Linked DNA regions of Homo sapiens: region 2 is linked to region 1. Evidence: fine-mapped QTL for protein levels in blood plasma. A gene starts in region 1. The other region holds a variant in brackets. All regions are shown on one strand. Distances are between the middles of the regions.

Evidence for each region. A credible set is the group of variants that fine-mapping cannot tell apart. PIP is the chance, under the fine-mapping model, that this variant and not a neighbour inherited with it causes the effect. Protein levels are from the aptamer-based SomaScan assay of Sun 2018.
Region 2: its variant is the best candidate, but not a certain one, in a credible set for the plasma level of the OAF protein (Sun 2018, PIP 0.65).

The regions. Positions count from the first base shown.
Region 1 is chr11:120,200,613-120,211,499 of GRCh38, reverse strand. OAF (out at first homolog) reads right to left here and starts at 468. Exons shown (of 4, transcript NM_178507.4): 1 at 1-468. The coding sequence starts at 220. RefSeq lists silencers at 151-260, 351-400, 581-840 and an enhancer at 1,174-1,715.
Region 2 is chr11:120,219,613-120,230,499 of GRCh38, reverse strand. It overlaps OAF (out at first homolog), which reads right to left. Exons shown (of 4, transcript NM_178507.4): 2 at 4,705-4,839; 3 at 3,504-3,684; 4 at 166-1,632. The coding sequence ends at 1,358. Among named protein-coding and RNA genes, the nearest start is that of OAF, 14 kb to the right of the region's middle. RefSeq lists an enhancer at 9,291-9,790. The variant G/A (reference allele first, on the strand shown) is at 2,880.

The DNA.
Region 1 (10,887 bases):
CGGCGGTGAAGGAGACGAGGGTGCCGTCGGGCTTGCGCAGCTCGAGGCTGATGCTGTCCGCGTCGCTGTCCGCCTGCAGGCTCTCCTCGGTCACCTGGCCGTCCGGCAGCCGCACGCGGACCCGCAGCTCGGCCGGCGCACCCGTTCCCAGCAGCGGCGCGAGCAGCGGCAGCAGCAGCAGCAGCGCAGGGCGCGCCAGGGGTACCCCGGGAAGGCGCATCCCCGGGGGCCGCTGCCGTCCGCGGCCCCGGCGCGCCGCGTGGGGGCGGGGAGAGGCGCAGGCAAACTTCGCCCAAAGTTGGGGGCTAGTTCGGGGCGCCCGGGAGCCGCTCCGCCGGGGGCCTTGGCCGCGGGGTCGCCCGCGAGGTGGCGCGGACGCACGTGGGTAGCGCTCAGCAGGGCGCCCCCGGCGGCCCCGAGGCGGAGACGGCGCTGCCCCGGCCCGGCTCCGCGGCCCCGGGCTCCAGCGCTGCGAGCCTGTGTTTTGCACTTTTCATTCAATCCCACCCCCCGTCACTTCCTTCAGAAAACAGAAACCACCAGGACCCGCCTTAAAGAGACCGCGCACCTCGCGGCCCTTAAAGGGCCCGCGGCTGCTCTCCGCACTTCGGCGTTGGCCGGGCAGGGGGCGGGGAGAGGGGGCAGCGGCTCCGCGGCTTTGTGCGAGCGGCCTCCTCGACCTCCCTCCCGCCCGGCCGCGCGGAGTCAGCGACCCAGGCGGAGTCAGAAGTTTGCTCTCCCGGGGCAAATCCCTTCCTTCCAGCAGGGGCAGGACGGGTGACTCTTCCCCCGCCCTGCACCGCCACCCCCCCCCCCCGCTTTTTTTTTTTTGGCTTGCTTTTGTGCCACGTGGATGAAATAATCGGGCTTGGATTTTTAGGGGTTTTGTTTGGTCTTTCAGTTTCTCTGACAGCGAATTTCTAAAAAGCTTCTGCAAAATCAGACCTCGCTTTGCACTCTGCCTTTTCCCTGCCCCACACTGGGAGGGTGGATCGGGGGTTCTCGCCCAGCTTTGCCACGGCCAGGTGTTAGACCTTGATGGGTCAGGTCACCCACTGGGACGCGGCCCTCAGGTTTTGTGAGCCCCTGTGCCTCTTTCCTTTTCAGTCCTGCCTCCCGTGCTTCCCGCATTCACGGCCTTTCCTCAGTCCTGCCCACCACCGCAGACCCGGTTCTTTCTCTCTATTATAGACTATGAAAATCCAGGGAAATGTTGGATTCCAGGTCACTTGGGAGAATTTCCAGGGACTCGGGACGCTGGCGCTCCACGACAGTGGCTTTCCCACAAGCCACAAGGAAACATGCGTGCCCTGCGGTGCACCCCAACAATAAGAAGGGTGAAGACCAGGAGATCTGGATTGCTGCCTCCTCTGATTAGTTGTGGAATTTAGGCACGTTTTAAAAATTCTTTGGGCTTAAGTGTCCCCGTGTGTATCGTGGAAGCTGCTCAGACCTACACTGTCCTGCCAGTCCCAGGCAAGGGAAAAAGCCCCACGAAGATGCTCAAAACCAATTGTTCCCTGACTTCCATTTTCACTTCTGTTGGGACCTTGATTACTGATGGGTGAAAACTCCCTTCTCTGCAGCCTCCTTCCCTTCTAGGGCTTCCCCAGCACAGGGCCATGTGAACTGCAGGGTCCGGCTAGAATCGGCCTCTTGCTATCATCCAGGGGCCCTTCCCGCTACCCGCTCTCTGCTGCCTAGATTTAGGACTGAAGGGAATTTAAGAGACTACCAAGTCAGCCTTTTCCAAATTTGCCTTTCCTGAAGAATCACCTGGATGCTTGTTAGAAAATAGATTCCCGAATCCCTAAACCCATGGAATCAGATTCTAGGGAAAAGAACTGAGGATTAGCATTTTTGACAAGGCCCACATGATGCTCGACATAAGTGGTTGACAGCAGGTATTTGGCAGATGTTTAAGCATAGAGCGTCTGGGCCAGACGCGGTGGCTCATGCCTGTAATCCTAGCACTTTGGGAGGCCGAGGCGGGCGGATTGCCTGAGCTCAGGAGTTCGAGACCAACCTGGGCAACAAGGTGAAATCCCGTCTCTACTAAAATACAAAAGAAATTAGCTGGGTGTGGCGGCGTGCGCCTGTAATCCCAGCTACTCGGGAGGCTGGGGTAGGAGAATTGCTTGAACCCAGGAGGCAGAAGTTGCAGCGAGCCAAAATTGCGCCACTGCACTCCAGCCTGGGTGACAGAGGAAGACTCCGTCTCTACAAAACAAAACAAAACAAAACAAAACAAAAACATAGAGCATCTGAAACAAGCAGCATCCTTCCTGGAGAACCTGGCTCCTAAGGAGTTCATCTTCACATCCGGGAGATAAGGCAGGCTGTTAGGGAATAATTGGATTAGCACAAGGATTGCTCCCCTAAGGACTCCCACTCTTAGCTGGCAACCGTTTAGACTAGAGATGCCCAGGGTCTTGAAATTGGCCTCCCGCCTGACAGGATGCTGGATCTCCATGCGGCCTTGAAGCTAGGTCTCCCACATGAGTCAGCCCACACAGTCATTAAGGGCCTCGCCCACATTTCCTAACTTCCCTTGTTTCAGGTCCTGTCCCCATCCGCCACCAGCTCTGCCCTCAGCCATTTCCCAGGCTCTTACCCCTTCTCCTCCCACAACAGCCCAGAAGTGGGCAAAGAAGCCCTGGATGTCAGATTTCTTGTTTAGGTCCCTGAGGTTTGTCTCTGTTCACATTTTGGGTTTGGAAACAAGGATGGAAGACCTCATCTCTTTCCCACCTCTTCCCCATAGTCAACTTCCTTCTCTACTTCAACCACAGATCAAACCAGATTTTTCTTTGAAAGTGATAGGGCATTTGAAATCTCACTCCATTACATAAGCCCTGCCTACCTACATCTCTATGCCTTGCTATTGATTTCACCTGACCACCTCTTCAAGCTCCAGGACAAAACTCAGGTTTCCCAGGAAGACTTTCTCGACTCCCCACCGACCTAGCCCTCTGTTCTGTGCCACTGTCTCCGGCCTCTGGACTCCAACAATAGTCATTATTATAGCAGCTCCTCCCCCATTGTATTTTGATTATGTCCAGGTTCTGTGCCAAGCATTTTACATGGATCATCTTATTTAATTTTCATGGCATCCCTCCAAAGTAGGTTCTATTCTTAGGCTCTTTTTACTGACTAGGAAACCAAAGCTTAGAGAGGTTAGGCAACATACCCAAGGTCACAAAAGCAGTAGAGCCAGCCGGGACTCAAACACAAGTCTGCCCGCCTGACCACAAAGCCCTTGCTTTGAACCACAGTAGCCTCTGCCTGTCGGTAGCCCTCACTTTCTGCCAGTCCCACTCGGGGCTCACATCCTGCGCTATCTTCTCCTGTTATCTAACGGTTTCGCGTGTGGCAATCCTGTATCCCCAGTGAAGCCGTCAGCTAGTTCAAACAGGCCAGCCCCGTGCTGGGAACAGACAGCGTTTCCCTCAAACCATCCGGGCATAGAAGCATCCATTCATCTTAAATGTAAAGGCCGTCAGAGGAAGAGCTCTAACAAGCCTAATTACTCCGACTACAACCAAACAGCCCTCATTGTCAGAGAGTTCTTCATGTCTCATCGCAAGACCTCTGCCACACCATAAACCAATTTCCTTTTTTTTCTCATCTCTAGCCCTTGGAAAGCAGTAGCCAGTAGTGGTTCAGAAAATGGGCATCAGGATCTCAGTCCTGGAGCTCGGCCCCAGTCATGAGCTGTGCGTCAGTGAGCCTGTTTCTTCAACTGTAAAATGGGCGCATACGTTTCTCCCTCACTGGGTTGCTTTGAAAATTAAATGAAACATTGTGCATAAAATATTTCGCAACATGTTTGGCATATAGTACAGATCCAATAAATGGTGGCTGTTATCCTTTAATTCTGTTTATTCTTTCCCATTGTATCACATACTAAATCTCTGATTATACAAGTCTCTCCCTCTCACCCCCTGCCACATGTATACGCGTGCATGTACACATATTCTTTCAGAAACATTTTTTTGGCTGGGCGCGGTGGCTCACACCTGTAATCCCAACACTTTGGGATGCCGAGGCGGGTGGATCACCTGAGGTCAGTAGTTCGAGACCAGCCTGGCCAACATGGCAAAACCCGTCTCTACTAAAATACAAAAATTAGCCGGGTGTGGTGGTGGGCGCCTGTAATCCCAGCTACTCCGGCGACTGAGGCACGAGAATCGCTTGAACCCAGGAGGCAGAGGCTGCAGTGAGCTGAGATCGTGCCACTGCATTCCAGCCTGGGTAACAGAGCGAGTTGGTCTCAAAGAAAAAAATAAATACATAAAAAAGAAATATTTCTTCCTCTCTATCCTCTTTAGGTGTCTAAGTTTTCTGTGTCTTGAGACCTCCGAAACTGAGAAATGGATAGCAGCAAAACCTCGGGAGGCACTTTCCCTTTGCTTTTTGGTCTGAGTGTGCCTTAATTTGGGAGGAAGAGAAACACCAAACCATCTCCCAATCTGTGCCCAAGAAAACAGGTGCTGACAAGACCCTGCAGGAGGTGGAAAGGGAAACTGAACCAATGACCTTTACCGAGAGACAGGGAGAGAACCACCAGGTGCTTGTCTTTGCAAGACTGGAAAGATTTTTTTCTTCCCATGACTTTCTGTGAGTGGCTGTTTGGTTTGGGTTAGGTTACAGCCCCTTTGTCTCTGGGCCTTTGCAGATAGAGTGGAGGATTTGCGATTTGAGTTTGAGGGAGAACCAGGGATGGAGTGAGGGATCCCCTCTGCTTCTCAATGTCAATTGCAAAGCTCCAGACACTTCATTGCCAGCACAGAAGTACAAATTAGCTTTCCGCCATCACACAATTATGCAGTTCCATCCATCAAGGGTGTGGTGGGAAAGTGGATTGGAGAGACAGCTGGTGGGGATACTGAGTGGAAAGGGAAGAGAAGTGGAGATGGCTGGGATAGGCATGGAGAAGCTATTCTTTTCGGGCAGAAAAACCAGGCAGAAGGGAAGTTGTCATGGAGGTGGGCTGGATCCATGACTTTCAGGAAGGAAAAGGAAGCCTGGATGATCAGAGCTGCAAGCCAAGGCAGATCTCAGTCCATTGATTAGTCCATTGATTATGGTAGCTCTTCAGGTGCCTTTTACCCTCTGCCTCTTGCTATAATTATTTCACAGTATTTGTGTTTGAAACCAGAGGCTACAAAAGAACCTAGGCCAGCTGTAAGTGGTGCTGCTCAGATTAGAAGCCTGGCATTCTGAAGCCAGGGCTTGTCTCCTCCTTTGACACGGCACAGAGCTCCATGTTGCCCATTGACTCTTGAAAGTCCCAAACATAGCTGGGCACGATGGCTCACGCCTGTAATCCCAGAACTTTGGGAGGCCGAGGCAGGCAGATCAGGAGGTCAGGAGTACGAGACCAGCCTGGCCAATATGGTGAAACTCCGTTTCTAATAAAAATACAAAAATTAACTGGGCATGGTGGCGTGTGCCTGTAGTCCCAGCTACTCAAGAGGCTGAGGCAGGAGGACTGCTTAAACCTAGGTGACGGAGGTTGTAGTGAGCCAAGATCATGCCACTGCACTCTAGCCTGGGCAATAGAGCAAGACTCTGTCTCAAAACAAACAAACAGAAAAAAGTCCCAAACATAACCTCTTTTCCTCCATGCTAGTTCCTCCATGAGGCCTTCCCTGCTCCCCACCCCCAGACTCATGCATTCACTCGTTCATTCAGTCATCTAGCACGTGAAGAGTGAGTCACTGCACTAGATGCTGTGGGCACAGCAGTGGAACAAGGCAGATGCAACAATTATTTACCCTGAGATGGAACATGCAAGAGAAGCAGGCTATAAAATCATGGCAAAACAAAATATTTTAATTATAATTGTTATAATGGAGAATTAGAGGAGAGTCTAGCCTAGACCAGGAGGCCTTCTTGGAAGGCTTTTCCAGGTGTAGCCTAATCTTAAAAGATGAATCAGCATTGACCAGCAAAGACAATGTTCCAGGCAAAGGAAACAGCTTGTGTACAGGACCTGAGTCTGGTGGGCTTCCCAGAAACATCACCAGGTAGCTAGGGCATGACGGGGGTGAAGAGTTGCTTGAAATCATGCAGTACAGTTTGGCAGGGCCCAAGAAACGCAGGGCCTTGGAGGCAATATTAGCACTGGGCTTGGTTTTGTTTTGTTTTCCTAAGATCAATGGGCAGTCATCGAAAGGTGTTATATAAGGGGTGACATGATCAGACTTGTATTTTAAAAATATTGTGCTCAGGAAATGGATTGTGGCCATGACAAGTAGTGCTGATGAGTGGGGTGGTGGTGGTGGCAGTAGGGGTGTGGAGAGGGGTTGGAATTCAGCAACACGGGGGAGTAGGATTTGATGTTTCTTTGGACTGGGGCAAGTGAGCAGGAGCGGTCAAGGGCAACTCCTGGTTCTGGCTTGCGTAGGCTGTGGCACCATGAATTAAGGTTGGGTAGCTGGGGAGAAGCCCTGGGATTGCCTTTATGGTAGCTCTTCAGGTGCCTTTCACCCTCTGCCTCTTGCTATAATTATTTCACAGCATTTGTGTTTGAAACCAGAGGCTACAAAAGAACCTAGGCCAGCTGTAAGTGGTGCCGCTCAGATTAGAAGCCTGGTGTTCTGAAGCCAGGGCTCGTCTCCTCCTTTGACATGGCACAGAGCTCCATGTCACCGCCTTCACTCACGGTCTTTGTAGGCTGAACCTGGCCCCTCTTTGCGTCCACCTTATGCCCAGCATGGTGCTTTGTATGCAGAAGGTGCTCAATAATGACATCTCTGTAGCCCTGTGTACCTGGCACTGGGCTATGGGAGAGAGAATCTGAGACACAGTCCCTGCCCTCAAGAATCTTGTTGACCATGTGATCCAGGACCTTCCAGAGCAGGCTGGGCCACCTCATTATAATGGAAGACCTCAGGCCCTTTTCAGATGCCAGTATTGCTCCTACCTGGAGACTCAGACATCTGTCCCTGAGAGCATTTTGCCCGTCATGCCCTGGCAAGTCCTTCATCAGGGCACACTCAGGGAGGCTTTAGAGAAGAGAGGTCTTGTTCACTGGTCTGGAGCGTCGCTGCCTTCAGCCACAGAGACCTTAGACTGTACGCCTGCGGCAAGAAGATGGGATCTGGCAGGGTTTGTGTGCCTTGTGTTGATTACATTTTAATGGGTAAACACCCTTTCCTTTATGCAAATCCCCGAGAAAATTTATTACTTTTTTTTTTTTTTTTTTTGAGATGGAGTCTCGCTCTGTCGCCCAGGCTGGAGTGCAGGGGCGCGATCTCAGCTCACTGCAAGCTCTGCCTCCCGGGTTCATGCCATTCTCCTGCCTCAGCCTCCCGAGTAGCTGGGACTACAGGCGCCCGCCACCACGCCCGGCTAATTTTTTGGATTTTTAGTACAGACGGGATTTCACCGTGTTAGCCAGGATGGTCTCGATCTCCTGACCTCGTGATCCACCCGCCTTGGCCTCCCAAAGTGCTGGGATTACAGGCATGAGTCACCGCGCCCGGCCAGAAATTTATTACTTTAAAAAATCAGTTGGATTTTTAGCCTGGTATTTTATTGCTCTTGAAAAATGTGCGTGTTACAGCTTGGGATGGGACATCCTGCTTTTTCATCAGGGGGCTGAGTGTGAACAAAGTTGAGCCTGGACAGGGGCCATTTCTGACCAGAGCCATCAGCTTGTCTCCCTTTTCCTGTCACAGTTGCTATGGGCCCCCTTATCAGAACATCTGGCTTCCATCTGACTGATGGTATCATCAAGGCTTAGGCTAGAGAGTCTAAGAAGGTTCTAGCATTATCCAGGGAGGGAGGCTCAGGGCCTAGTTTCTTATCCAGTGGAAAAGGGAACATTGCCCTCTCCTGAACTGGGGATCTCAGAGCCACCCTCACTATCATGACTTTTTAAAAAAAGATCTTTCATTTTTCCGAACAAATGGAAAGATACTATGTTTATCGAGAAAAATGTGATAAAAATATATACATTTAGTGCATTTCCAATTAACATCCTAATGGAGCTTAAACATTTTTAAAACAGACTTTTTTATTTTTAACCGTTTTAGGAGTCACAGCAAAATCGAGTGGAAAGTACAGCGTTCCCATATACCCTTGGCCCCTATGTATTCATACTCTTCACCATCAGCATCCCTGCCGGAGGGCTATGTTTGTTACAATCAATGAACTTGTAGTGACACTTTGTAATCAACCAAAGTACACAGTGTACATGAGGGTTCCATTCTTGGTTCTGTATATTTGATGGGTTTTGACAAATGTATCCACCATTACAGTATCATACAGAGGGTTTCACTATGCTAAAAATCCCACGTTCCACCTATCCATGCCATTAAAAAGTGCATGTAATCGTGTTAGGCCACTGGAGAGAAAATAAAACCTGATCAATATTGATTTCAGATTATCTTCTGAGCATTGTGGTTTTTATGAAGTTATCGCTGCATGCCCTGTGTTTCCTGTCCTGCTTTTCTTAATATTATTTCCTACATGCATTTCCACATATTGACACAGTCCACACATCATTCTTTTTTTGTTTTTTCGAGACAGAGTCTTGCTCTGTCGCCCAGGCTGGAGTGCAGTGGCACGATCTCAGCTCACTGCAACCTCTGCCTTCTGGATTCAAGCAATTCTCCTGCCTCAGCCTCCTGAGTAGCTGGGATTATAGGCACCTGCCACCATGCCCAGCTATTTTTTGTATTTTTAGTAGAGACGGGGTTTCACCATGTTGGCCAGGCTGGTCTCAAACTCCTGACCTTGTGATCCACCCGCCTCAGCCTCCCAAAGTGCTGGGATTACAGGTGTGAGCCACCATGCCCGGCCCACACATCGTTCTTAATAAAGTTATAGAGCACACCATGGTGTAAAGAGTTGACAGCGTACTCTAATCATTTGTTGGTTATTATTTTTCTACTATACAATCTTGTAGAAAAGATTTAAAAGGAGACTACAAATTGTGATTCTGATGCTTTTTGCAGAGTTTGAATGCTATGCACTTAAACTCTGATTTATGCCTTCAGCCAGGTTCCTCTCTAGCAGCCCCCTGAGACAGAGTGTCCTGTATATCTCTTTTCATGTCTGTGAAGGGAAAAGACCCCATAATGTCCCGAGGGGACTCAATTACTGCTGTACAAACACAGGATCTTAGCTACTTTCAACTAGAAATTTCTTTCTCATGTACAACACAAATGTCCTTGACTTGAATGTAAACTTTCCACCCTTTCCTGAGTGTGAACAGTTTCTCTCACCTGCACATCGTGTGTGCAAATCAAAAGAGTATGATCCATATTAGGAGTTATTTATATGTGATGATATTCTGCAGGAGAATGTCATAGACTTTTCATGAATTCTCATCAAAGTCAAATAGCACAAACCTTTGTGAGGGGTGTTATTCTGACTTCCATTTTATAGACGAGGAAAGAAGAGGATTCATTAATGCTCAGCTTTAAAATTAAAAAAAATCATATTATATGTCTTCTATTTGGAATTTTAAATTACTTCCTCCAAATAACCCACTTATTAAAAACAAAGTGGTGAGAAATCATGTCACGATTCATCATTTGCTTACAGTAAGCCTGGAACTTTGGACTCATTTTCTTACTTAATTCTTATGATAACTCTGGGAAGCAGGAGACCAAAGTGACTTTTAAACCCAAGACTTTGTGTGGTGACTGGGGGCAGGGAGGGGGTGGGGGGCACTGGCCAAGGCCATCAGGGATGAAGGCAGAGGGGTTGGGGATCTGGTTGTCACCACTCACCTGAAACTTCTCTCTTATTTCCTGCAAATAACAGAGTGGAACGTGTGAAAGGGCTGTTGATGGCAACCGGGGAGGACACAGAGCAGGACCCATACCTTGGGAGGAAGTGGGCTTGCAGTTTCCACCCTTCCCAGGCCCCTGATCTTGACATCTTGGCTCTGTTGTTAGCTAGCTGTGTGAAATAGAGCCAATGACAGCCTCCTCCTGACACCGATGAGTCTCTGCTTCCTCCCACGTTAAAGAGGGGATATTAGTACCTACTCCAGTTGGTTATGATGCGGACTAAATGTGATATAGTATACAATTAGGATGGTGCCTATACCAAGTGGAGATTAGTGAAACGTTTTATTTATTTATTTTTGAGATGGAGTCTTGCTCTGTCACCCAGGCTGGTGTGCAGTGGTGCAATCTTGGCTCACTGCAACCTCTGCCTCCCAAGTTCAAGCGATTCTCCTGCCTCAGCCTCCCAAGTAGCTGGGACTACAGGCATGGGACACCATGCCCAGCTAATTTTTGTATTTTTAGTAGAGATGGGTTTCGCCATATTGGGCAGGCTGGTCTCGAACTCCTGACTTCAAGTGATCCGCCCAACTCGGCTTCCCTAAGTGCTGGGATTACAGGTGTGAGTCACTGCGCCCGGCCAAAACTTCTTCTTACCCTCCTTTGCTATCTTTCCTGTCTGATAGCCCTGGAGTGAGTTTGGAGTGTCTATGACACTCTTGGGTCACCTCAGCTCTTCCTGCCACAAGACCCTCAGACCTCTAGCTCCAACCCTGCTGCCCTACCTGCCTCTCAGTGCTCCCCAGAATGGACGAGAAACCCAAGAGCCAAATCCTGGCTTCCTGACCCAGGGATGAAGCCCTAGCAGCCCTTCCTTGGCCCAGGTCCTCTTTCCTGTACCTTTGTTCTGCTCCCTGCTGTTAACAATGATTCACAGATCAAAGGATGTCCCCAGCAGGGATCCTTAACCATGAATTTGCTTCAGGGTCCAGAACTCTTGGAAATTACAATATAAAAAAACCTTGTGTATATATTTGCATTTTTCTGGAAATAGAATTCTCAGGGATTCCTAACCTCTGTGGGTAGATTTGAGGTGGGAGAGGGATTATGTGGGGTTTCTTCTGTGTGGACTAAAATT
Region 2 (10,887 bases), 19 kb before region 1:
TGTTGAAAGATACTTTGGAAGTGAAGAGCCTTCCAGATGTCTGATTTCATTGAGTCAGGCTTATAGCTGCAGGAATGTCTGCTTTTTTCACTAATAGTAATGATACTAAGAATGGCTAACAGCACTATGTGCTAGATGCTTGACATGCAAGAATTCACTTCGGTCTCTTAAGTAAGCTCATTTTATAGCTAAGGGAGTGGAGGCACAGAGAGGTCAAGCAACTTGACCCATGGCTGCACAGCAGGTAAGTAGCCGAGCCCAGATCTGAAGCGGGGTTCCAATCTCCACCCCATCTCTTGCCTTCGCGCTGGCTATTTCTGACTGGCTTACTACGGTTGCAGCTATGTCTGTCTCATTGTCTTGGGTGCAGAAGTTTTATCTCATCCTTCCCTAGTAACATCTTCCTTCTCCTCCTTCCTTCCTCAAATGGCTGAGCACACAGTAGGTGCTTTCGAAGTTCTTGTTCCAAGATAGGCCACTGCTAGGGTGTGGGGACACTTTCTGACATCAGGTGGCAGCATTGGCCAAAAGTTTTCTCCAAACTCTGGGTCTCATTAGTCAAGTAAAAACTTAAAACGTTTATTTCTGGTAGAAATGATAAATACTTTGCACTAAAAATCTGGAATTCAAGTTTTCCTCGTACTTCATGCTCCCTCCCTGCCCCAGAACCTTACAAAAATATTTCTGTGTAGAGAGGGAAAGAGCTGGTGCCTGCTCTGGAGGCAACGTCCAGGTCCGGGAAAGGCACTCGTGGTCTGTGATCTGTCTCAGTGATGGGAGGTCTCCACTCGCCCCACAGGCAGCCTCGGGGCCAGAGATGAGAATATGCTGTAATCCAGTACAGGGGCTGCGTCGTGGGTCCCCAACAGCTCCTTCTTTGGGGATAGTGAGCCCCTTGTTGGGGAGTAGGAAGGGACTGAGGGGCCAGCTCCTTCCAGATGTGTGCATGGGGAAGGGAGTTGTGTCTGGGGAGGTGGGTGTCCAGGTATAGACTCCTTTTAGGGTCTAAACGTTCAAGGAGTTCAACAGAACAACCAGAGGCCATCATGTTTTGGCAGCTTGCAAGTGAACACTCCAGGGGAGATGCAGGAGGGAGGGGTGTAGATCTGGGGAGCCCTTCTCTCCCTCTCTGCCCGCAAGGAAGGCACAGGGTGGGAATGGGGGTGCCTTCATGAGACCCCCTGCCATGCCACACCCCCTTCACAGTCATGTGAGATGGGGCCAGAGGGGCCCAGGCTCTAGGGCCAGGGGAGTGGGGAGGGAGGGAAATAAGGCCTCAGGTGGGGGTTGCCACCCCCTCTAGTGGCTGGTGAAGAGCAGTGGGCCCAGAGCAGCCACCCGCCAGGTTGCTCCCACCCTAGCCTGGGTAGGGATCCTCATCCCAGAGACACAGCTGCCTCTGGGGCACGTAGAAGTCGAAGCTGTAGCTCTTCTGGCAGCTGCGGATGCCACACTTGTAGGGCGTGGGCCGGTCGCGGCTGTGGCAGTACTTGAGCATGCAGGGGTACCAGGCCAGGCTCAGGCCATAGCGGCAGACGCAGGGCTTCCCGTGGTCCCCCACCTGCCTGCAGCGAGGCAGCTCCGCCTGCTCTGAGGCCTTGGGCAGAGCCTCGAACACAGAACTGTCCACACCTGGGGGAGAGAGGCAAGGATCAGGGAGGGAGGGAGGGAGGGAGGGAAGGAGCTCCCCTAGTCAGAGGCCGCTGCCATTCCCCACTTGGTCTCCTCTGTCATCCCACAGGCATTTACAGACACCTCCATTTCCAAGCTTGCCATGGGACACAGAGGTAAGACCTGGTTACTAGGCTCCTCCTTGCTGGGCTCGTGGGAGAAACAGATTAAATAGGAATCACCCTCCTCTATGGCATCAACTGTGTGCTACGGGCTCTACTTACAGTACCTCCATCAGTCACCCCATGGGCTAAGTATCGTCATCCCTGTTTTAGTGATGAGAACATCGACCCAGAGTTTAATGATCTGGCCAAGGTTTCAAGGCCTCCACTAGACCACACTGCCACCCAATGCTTTAAAAAATCACCATACCGGAGTGTGCTGAGATAGAGGCGTGGGGAGACAAGGTTGGAAGTCAAGGAAGGCTTCTTAAAAAAGGTGACATCTGGCCGGGCACAGTGGCTCATGCCTGTAATCCCACTTTAGGAGTCTGAGGCAGGTGGATCACCTGAGGCCAGGAGTTTGAGACCAGCCTGGCCAACACGGTGAAACCTTGTTTCTACTAAAAGCACAAAAATTAGCTGGGCACAGTGGCGGGCACCTATAATCTCAGCTATCCTGGAGGCTGAGGCAGGAGAATTGCTGGAACCCGGGTGGCGGAGGTTGCAGTGAGCCGAGATCGTGCCATTGCACTCCAGCCTGGGGGACAACAGTGAGACTTTATCTCAAAAAAAAAAAAGTGACATCTGAGTAGGGCTAGGCAGAGAAGGGCCAGCAAAGCACACCCACAGTGGGGCAGGTCAGGTCAGGGTGGCCAGGGCTTGGATCAAATGGGAAAGTGTGCATATTGGGGCGCTGGAGGAGACGGAAGGTACCGGCCTGATTAGGCTCAGGGGCTGTATGGGAGGGGCCAGCTTCTGGAGGACACTTATGTCAAGCTTGCGGCATAGTCTGGGGTGCAGGCCATGGGGGAGGGTGTATGTGTGTGGGGGGCAAGACCACAGCTTGGTTGGGTATTTCTAAATCTGGGCCTGCCCTGGGAGGAGCAGGCATTTCACCAGTGCTCAGTTGGCTGGCAGAAGGCACAGGGGCTCAGAGTTGGAATGGCGCCATTTCCCTCTCCCCTCCACACAGGGGACCTGAGGGCGGTCCTGGAAAAGGTACCCAGAGAGGGGTCAGCGCTGAAGTCACAGAGGTCAGGAAGGCAG[G/A]GACCATGCAGTATGGAGAGGAGCTTCCAAGGATCTTGGGGCAGAGATGCTGGCACCAGGGAGGGCCTGAAGCTGATATCTGAGAGGTGTCAGTGGAGGGGGGCAGGGTGTCCTTGTGCCCCACACCCATGACAGAAGGCCCCATCTCTGTGTCCTCACTAAGGGCAGGGACAAGGGGAAGTACCTGGGAATCTCCCTCCACAGGGCCTAGCAGAGTCTGTGTGCCCTGCCTGGAGCAGGGCCCTTTCCTCTGGCTGAATCTTCTCGCTGAATAATCACACAGGCTCCATTTCCTCCAGGAAGCCTTCCCAGACCAACTGTAGCCTGGTTTGGGGGTCCCTCCCTGAACGCCTGTAGCTATCATGGTATTCTATCACACTTAACTCTGTGCAGATCTACCCTGCTGGGGGACAGGAACTGAGTGTCTACATCTCTGATTCCTGCGCCAGTACATCTCTGTAGGTGTTCAGTAAATGTCTCCTGAACAAAGGAAAGGCTAATGATGAGACTTGGCTAATGATGAGACTCAACTAATGATGCCCCTGCCCTCCTCCACTGCTCTGTGCTGTCTCCCTGTCCCCTTCCCTCCGCCCAGCAGCGGGCAGTGCCCAGCTCCCAGCTGACCTTGCTCCAGCCAGAACCGGACATCCTCCTGGCGGGTGTAGATGGCATCCACGGCCTCGGCACACACGTTGTGGAGATGGGGGCTCAGCAGGGCCCCCTGGCTGAAGTTGACAGCGACATCCATGTGCAGATGCTCCAGACCCCGAACCTCCTCCGCCTGCCGCACTGCCCGGGGATTTTTCTGTGTGTGGGAGAGAAGTCACTCCTACCTGGCTTCAGAATGCTCCCTGTCCATCTTCCCCTGACCCTCCAGAGTCAGGCGAGCCCAAGCTGACTGCCTTTAGAACGCTGGGGCCATCTGCAGGGTGGCAGCCCCACCCCTCTCCAACTGGCAGTGAAGCTGATGCCTAGAGTACAGTCGAGCCTTTTCAGCCTCTATCCAGAATGGATGCTTCCCAAACTATGTGCTGGCCACTGGGCTGACCTCTGGGGCTTGATGGAGAATGCTGAGGTGTGGATGGGAGGTGGAGGTGGGTGGGCCAGGCAAGCTGTGCCAGGGCATATGACCTCTGGAATCACGTACTTTCCAACATCCAGGGAACCAAGTCCCTTTGGGAAAGCAGGCAAAGCGCAGGGGCGAGGAGGCCCCCAGGGCAGGCTCTGCTGGGCAGGCCAGGGAACTCAGATGAGGCTGGGGCAAGGCCCTGGGTCTAAGAAGACAGCAGGAGCAGGCCGGCAGCTTTGAGGGTCTTGAACACTTCACATATGTTTGCTCACTGAATTCCCCCATAACCCAGTTTCAGTGAGAAAATTGTGGCTTTGAAGGTAACTTGTCCAATGTCACCCAACTAATGAGTGACGGAGGAGATGTGATGTCTGATCTGACCTCAGAGCCCAAGCCCCTAGCCTGTCACACACGGGGAGGTGCTGGAACCAGATGGGAGAAATCTGAGAGTTGGGGTTCAGTTAGTGATCTGCAGCTCTAGGGTCAGGTTTGGCCTGGGGCAAAATCAGGGGCTCAGGACTCTAGGGTGAATGGGGTACCAGGGATGAGGGCAGGTCAAGGGCAGTGGGTCCAGGAACAGCGTGAAGATGAGGAGCTGGGTGGGAGGCTAAGGTTGGGGAATCAGAGCTTAGAGCTAGGCTGGCTGCAGGGGTCGGGTCTGCAGGTCAGGATCTGGGCCGGGTCTGCGGGATGGGATCTGGGCCGGGTCTGCTGCGGGTCAGGACCTGGGCCAGGCAGGCCTGGTGGGGCACTTACCTGCCGGAGCTTGGCCATGGCCTCACTGGGGATGATCTCATTGTGCTGCAGCTGGGTGACAAAGCAGAGGGCCTGGAACTGACTCTGCCCCTTCTCCAGCTCCCCCAGGATCAGGGCCCGGAAGACCTTCACATCCTGAAGAAGGGCAGGAGGATGGGAACGGCTGGAGGGTGTGGGACCTTCCCACTGGCCCACCGGGTGCTCAGCTTGGCCCCTGAACAGGATGCCTGGACACTGCCGGGCAACAGACACCTCCCTCCTGCTGGTCTAGGAATTTTTATCTTTTCCGTTTAAACCCGTGACTTGAAAGAAAGAACACACCCCAGATGTTCCAAAGATCCTGGAAAACTGACAAAGTGAACCACTAGAGTTTTTCCCAGCTGATGATTCCTCTCGGCAGAACCCCTTAACGTCACCCTGATCAGGGTGGGTCAGGGCCTCTACAGGCACCTGATCAGGGCATCATGGAGGAGGGCTGGACTTTTCCAGTACCGATTCCAGAGTTCCTCTTTTTTTTTTTTCTTTGTAGTTGTAATGGCTAGAAATCTTAGACATTCTTATTCAGTAGATCTGGGGAGAGGTCTCAAGATGCCCTTGGTGCTTCTGATTGGCCAGGCTCCTGGCCACCGACCACTGAGTGAGTGGAGTGGTGGGGCCGGGACGGGGTGAGGGCAGAGTGGGAGGCTGGCTGCAGCTGTTGCAGCCTTCCGGCCTGAGGGAGCTAGGATGCCTCGCCTCTTCCTTTCCCTCCCCACTTCCCCTTTCCCCCATGGGGTCGCTAATGGCATTGCCGCAGTCCAAGGGCTCCTTCCTGTTACTGACTCACTGTGTGAATGGGGGGTCTGCAGCAGGATGGAGGGAGTAGAGCTGTAGGGTGGGCTGGGGCCCCCTTCCCTATCCGGCTGCTGGAGCCCTGTGCTCTGCTCACCTGTACCGCTCACCACATGAGAAGTGGCCCCTTGCCTTCTTACCCATCTCTGTGACTTGATTAACTCTGCTCCCAGTGAGAAGTTAGTGGGTCCCAGTCAGAAGTGGTCTACATCTGTCAAGGCCCCTCCTGTGGTGGAGGCACCCTGACCTCAGTGACCATTCTCTGCTGGGAACCCCTATGGCTCTGCACTGAGACTTAGAATGACAGCTCTGTGGATCATCTATTAATGCCCGGGCCCCAGCTCCCCCCACCACACAGTCACTGAGTACTTGCTGTACACCCGCGAGAACAGAAGTGTCTCAGCAACAGGCTCTGAGTGGCCCCCTTGGAGTCCAATACATGCGGCAAGGGACTCACAGCTCCGCCCCGAAGCTGCAATGTATTAGTGAGTCCTCCAGGCTTTCCCCTAATTTCTCTGATGTGTAAAATGGGGATGATCCCAGTTATGTGACAGGGTTGTGGTGAGGACTAAGTAAGTTATCTGAAGATTCTCACATGGGGTCAGCGCTAGCTGGGATTACTCTTGTAGGTGACCAGCAAGCATCGTAGGTGGTCTGCAACAAACGAGTGCATGTCATCTCATAAATGCCCATGTATTTCTGCAGTCCTTTAACTCTACAGAGTTTCTCTTACTTGCCATTATTGTAAATCATCTCTGGAACGATGAGGTATGGAAGTATAGGGGGAGGTTTTCCAGAAAGGGAAACTGAGGCTCAGCTGTTGAGGAAGGTTCCATTAGGTTCCTTATGATCCCAGAGATTTGTGAAGAAGGTGATCAGAGCTCAGCCAACCCCTGCTTCCTCTCAACAGGAAATCCCTTCTTGGTCATGGTGCTGCAATCTCCTTGTCCTGCCAGCCTGGGCTATCTGATCTTCCCCTCACTCAGGTCGGCTGAGGAGAGATGGGAGGCTGCTCTGCCTGTAGCATATTCCATTCTGGGCTCAATTCCTGCCAGGTGAGACTTGATACCAGACTTCCCCTGCTAGAGCTTGAGCCAGGCCATGTCCCTGGCAGGATCCCCCAGGAAGGATCCAAAAACCACTTCCCTGGTATTTTCAGCTCTGACTCTTTGGAGAGAAGCCTATCTGGATATTCACAGCATCTTCTCCAATACCGCAGGTGCAGGAAATATCCGGAAGTCTCAGGGCTGCTCAGGGGTCTCTTTGCTTGGTGACATCACCTGACTACCGTTGGCAAAAGAAGGTATTTGAACTTTCAGACCAGACTAGAGGATGAAAGAAATCTATTTGAGCTTTTTTCCTGCTTCTATATTAATAATGTCATCAATGACAATAACAAAATGCTGTCAAAATGGGAACTGACAGGGGGTGCAGGAAGGGAATGATAATTTCTCACTGAGAGGATTTCCTCTGTATCTCCTATTTGTATAGGAAAAAGAGTTACTGAAATTTGTAACTAGAAGAGAAAAAACATTGTTTCCATGGGTCAAAAGGATGTATGATCCTTTTTAAAATCCTTACAACAGGCGGTAGGAGCTATGATTGTTACCGAGCTTGGATTAGGTAACCTGTTCAACGTCATGGACTAAGAGGAAACATAGCCAGGATCTTAATCCAGACAGTCTGACTTCAAAGCCTGAGCTCTCTTAACCAGAATCCATAATTGCCTCCTGGATCAGCTAGTCTCATCTCCTTGATGCTCAGCTAAAGAAGCTGGAACTCGGGCACACAGAGGTTGTGCGGTCTGCCCTTGATGCCTGAGCTGGCCAGCAGCAGAGGTGGGATTAGGACCCGCTCCCCATCATGCCCATCTGGCGGCAGCCTGCCTTAAGTCAGCACACCTGCCTTCGAATGTGGCGGCTCTGGCTCGTGGTTCCTGCAACTACCAAACAGCATGACACAAATAAGAGAAGAGGAGGCAGGAATACCCTTCTAACCCGCCTGCCTGCCCTGCCAGGACTTCTTTTTTTGTTTTTTGTTTTGTTTTGTTTTTTGAGACAGAGTCTCACTCTGTCACCAGGGTGGAGTGCAATGGCGCGATCTCGGCTCACTGCAACCTCCACCTACCGGGTTCAAGCGATTCTCCTGCCTCAGCCTCCTGAGTAGCTGGGACTACAGGCATGGGCCACCACACCCAGCTAATTTTTGTATTTTTAGTAGAGACAGGGTTTCTCCATGTTGGCCAGGATGGTCTTGATCTCCTAAGCTTGTGATCTGCCTGCCTCGGCCTCCCAAAGTGTTGGGATTACAGGCGTGAGCCACTGCACCCGGCCTCTGCCAGGACTTTTTAAACTACAAATTCTCCGGTCTCTCCTTTGTGTGCATGGTTGTTTTTTTTTTTTTCTTTTGGAGACCGAGTCTTATTCCGTCACCCAGGCTGGAGTGCAGTGGTGCAATCTCGGCTCACTGCAACTTCCGCCTCCCAGGCTCAAGCAATTCTCCGGCCTCAGCCTCTGGAGTAGCTGGGATTACAGGCATGTGCCACCATGCCCGGCTAATTTTTGTATTTTGTAAAGACTGGGTTTCACCAGGTTGCCCAGGCTGGTATCGAACTCCTGACCTCAGGTGATCCGCCTGCCTTGGCCTCCCAAAGTGCTGGGATTACAGGTGTGAGCCACTGCGCCCGGCCCTTTCGTCCTATTTCCCCAGAAAAGCACATTCCACTTGCTGATCCCTGAGAAGGAGTGGGCAGCCCTACTTTCTGGGTCTATTTGGTAACAGGACTCCATCATCCTGACCAGTGTCCCTCCCGCTTTCCACTCCTTGCACCTCAGACTCCCTGGCAAGGTTCTGGGGCCCCCTCTTCTTCCAACCTTCACAGGGAAGGGTGAAAGTCCCCTCAGATGCTAAGCCCAGGCCAGATGGAAGCCTGACTCCCAGCCTTCCTCCTTGCCCAGGAATCTGTTGGGATGACGTACTTCATGTGGCCTAACACCTAAAGCAGATGCTTAGCTGGGGAAGAGCCTACAACAGGGACTGCAGGCAGGCTCCTGAGGCTCAGGACCCAGGATAGGGTCCCCAAGACGGGAGGTTGTTATAAGGCTCCTTCTCCCACAAGCTTCCAGGAATCTCCAGCCTACCTGGAAGAACTGGAGCATACTACATCCAGGGCCAGGATCTGGGCCACGCAGAGGGTGTGGCAAGTACCCTGGGGAAATAGTGTTTGCTAGGGTCCTCGTCTGTAGTTTTAAGTAAGGAGTAGGTAGGCTCTAGGATAGCACAGAATTTAAGAACAAAGGCTCTGGAGCCAGTGTTACCCATGTTCAGATCCTGGCTTTGCCTCTGCTGGCCACATAACCTTGAAGGGATTTACTTAACCTCTCTGTACCATAGTTTCCACATTGGCAAGCTGAATAAAATGATAGTATCTACCTCAAGGGACTGTTGCAGGGAATAAATGAGTGAAAGGTTTCAGAACACAGTGGGCTGAACTTTCAGTTTCTCTCTTGTGGCTGCAATTCCTGGCTCTATGTCTGCCTTGCTCCACCTGAAATCTACTCCACTCCTGAAGACCCAGGAGTTGAGATTGTTCTCTTCTAGATGTACCTATGGCCTAGACAGGTCAGGTGACTCCTCTGGGGCTTGCAAGTAATCAGCCAATCAGTGGGAGAGCACTGATTAGCAGGACATGGGGCAGGGCCTTCACAAACACCTGGGCAGGGGAGTGGCCTTGGCCAAGACACAGATTCCTGTTTTCCAGGGGATGGTGGAGGAGGCTGACTTCTGACAACTCAAGTCAGCAAACAATAGGCCTAGGATTGAGGTTTACTCCAAGTGCAATGGAGGTAAAGGGTGGATGAGGGAGTGCTCGTTGTCCCCTTAAGGTTGGGGCTGGGGGTGGCATGAGGGAGGGAAGACTTCGCACAGTGAGGGACTCCTCATTGGCCCTTGACAGTTAAAGGATGGAGGGCTTTCCAGCAATGAGGCATTTACAGAAGACAGCCAGGCATGAGTCTCCCAGTGCCCCCACCCAATCATCCCTCCATGCTACTATCACCCGAGTGGCCGAATGCCCTTCAAGGGCTCCCTTTGTCCTCACCAGAAAGCCTAACCCCAGAGCCTGGCATCCCAGGTCCCTGCTCACAGCAACTGTTGCACTTCCCATGCACTGAACCGGAGAGCTTGTAGTTCCCAGAATGAGCGATGCTGTGTCACCCCTAGGCCTTTCTGTGAGCAGGTTCTTCTGCCGGGATGCCCTGTGCTCAGCTGTCTCAGCTGTGCCTTGTGTGCAGGGCACAGCTCACAAACGACCCTCCTCTGACTGCCCTCCCAGTGCTGCCCTCACCAGCCCTTCTGCAGAGTTGGCCAATCCCAGTCGCTGCCTCTAGAGCACAAATCCCACTGTTTACTCCCACTGTGTTTTTGCTGACCTCTTTACTTGTCTTTCTTTCCAGACTCAACTTCTTGAGCCAGGAAAAGTGGCTTGCTTGAAGTGCATCCCTGCCCCCTGGAACACAGCAGGTGCTCAATAAACATCTGATAAGGAATACATGAAGGGTGAATGAACAACAGCATGGAAGAGTTCTCTGAGAAAAGCGGTGGGAATGTACTAGGGGAGGAGGGGAAGGGTCGTGAGTGCTGATGAGGCTGGCAAGGGGTCAGGACACAAGCAGGACGCAGGGTCTGAACCAGGCTGAGGAGTGGGAGGCTTCCTCTTGTGCCTCTCTGGAAGTCACTGGTGGGTTTGAGCCTGGGGTGACATGAGGGACCTGTGGTTTGGAGCTGAATCAGACTCTGCCTGAGGTTGTGAGAGTGCCTTGGATCTCAGTGCCCCAGTCAGATGGTCTCTGTCCTCATGGAGCACCTTCTGCCCAGGCAGTTAGTCATCCAAGCCCTCTGTGACCTGCCTCTGGCTCAAGAGCAGCGACTCTAGCCTATTCACATGGTGACCCTGGGGTCTGTCGCACAGCTGGGGCTCAATGCTTAGTAGCTGGAGGAACGAATGAATGCTCTAGGGCCTCCATCAACCCACTGGCCTCCAATGTGCAGACACTCTTTCTTCTCGGCCTTGCCTGCAGCTGGGCTCCTGCAGGCTGATAGTGCTACAGCTGCTATTTTGGCATCTAGAAGGTTTAGGGGATCATCTAGTTCATGGCCCAGTGAGGTTCCAGCAGGGAAGTAACCTTCATGAGTCACACAGTGGCAGAGCCAGGGCCAGAAGCCTAGACCTCCTGACTCTGAGTCCAGTGATCTTCATGCTTGTCCTGGCTCCCCTCCGTAGCCCTTGTCCAGATACTCAATTCCTCCCTGTGCCCATCCCAGCCATGCTGTCTGACTGGGATCCACCTGTGT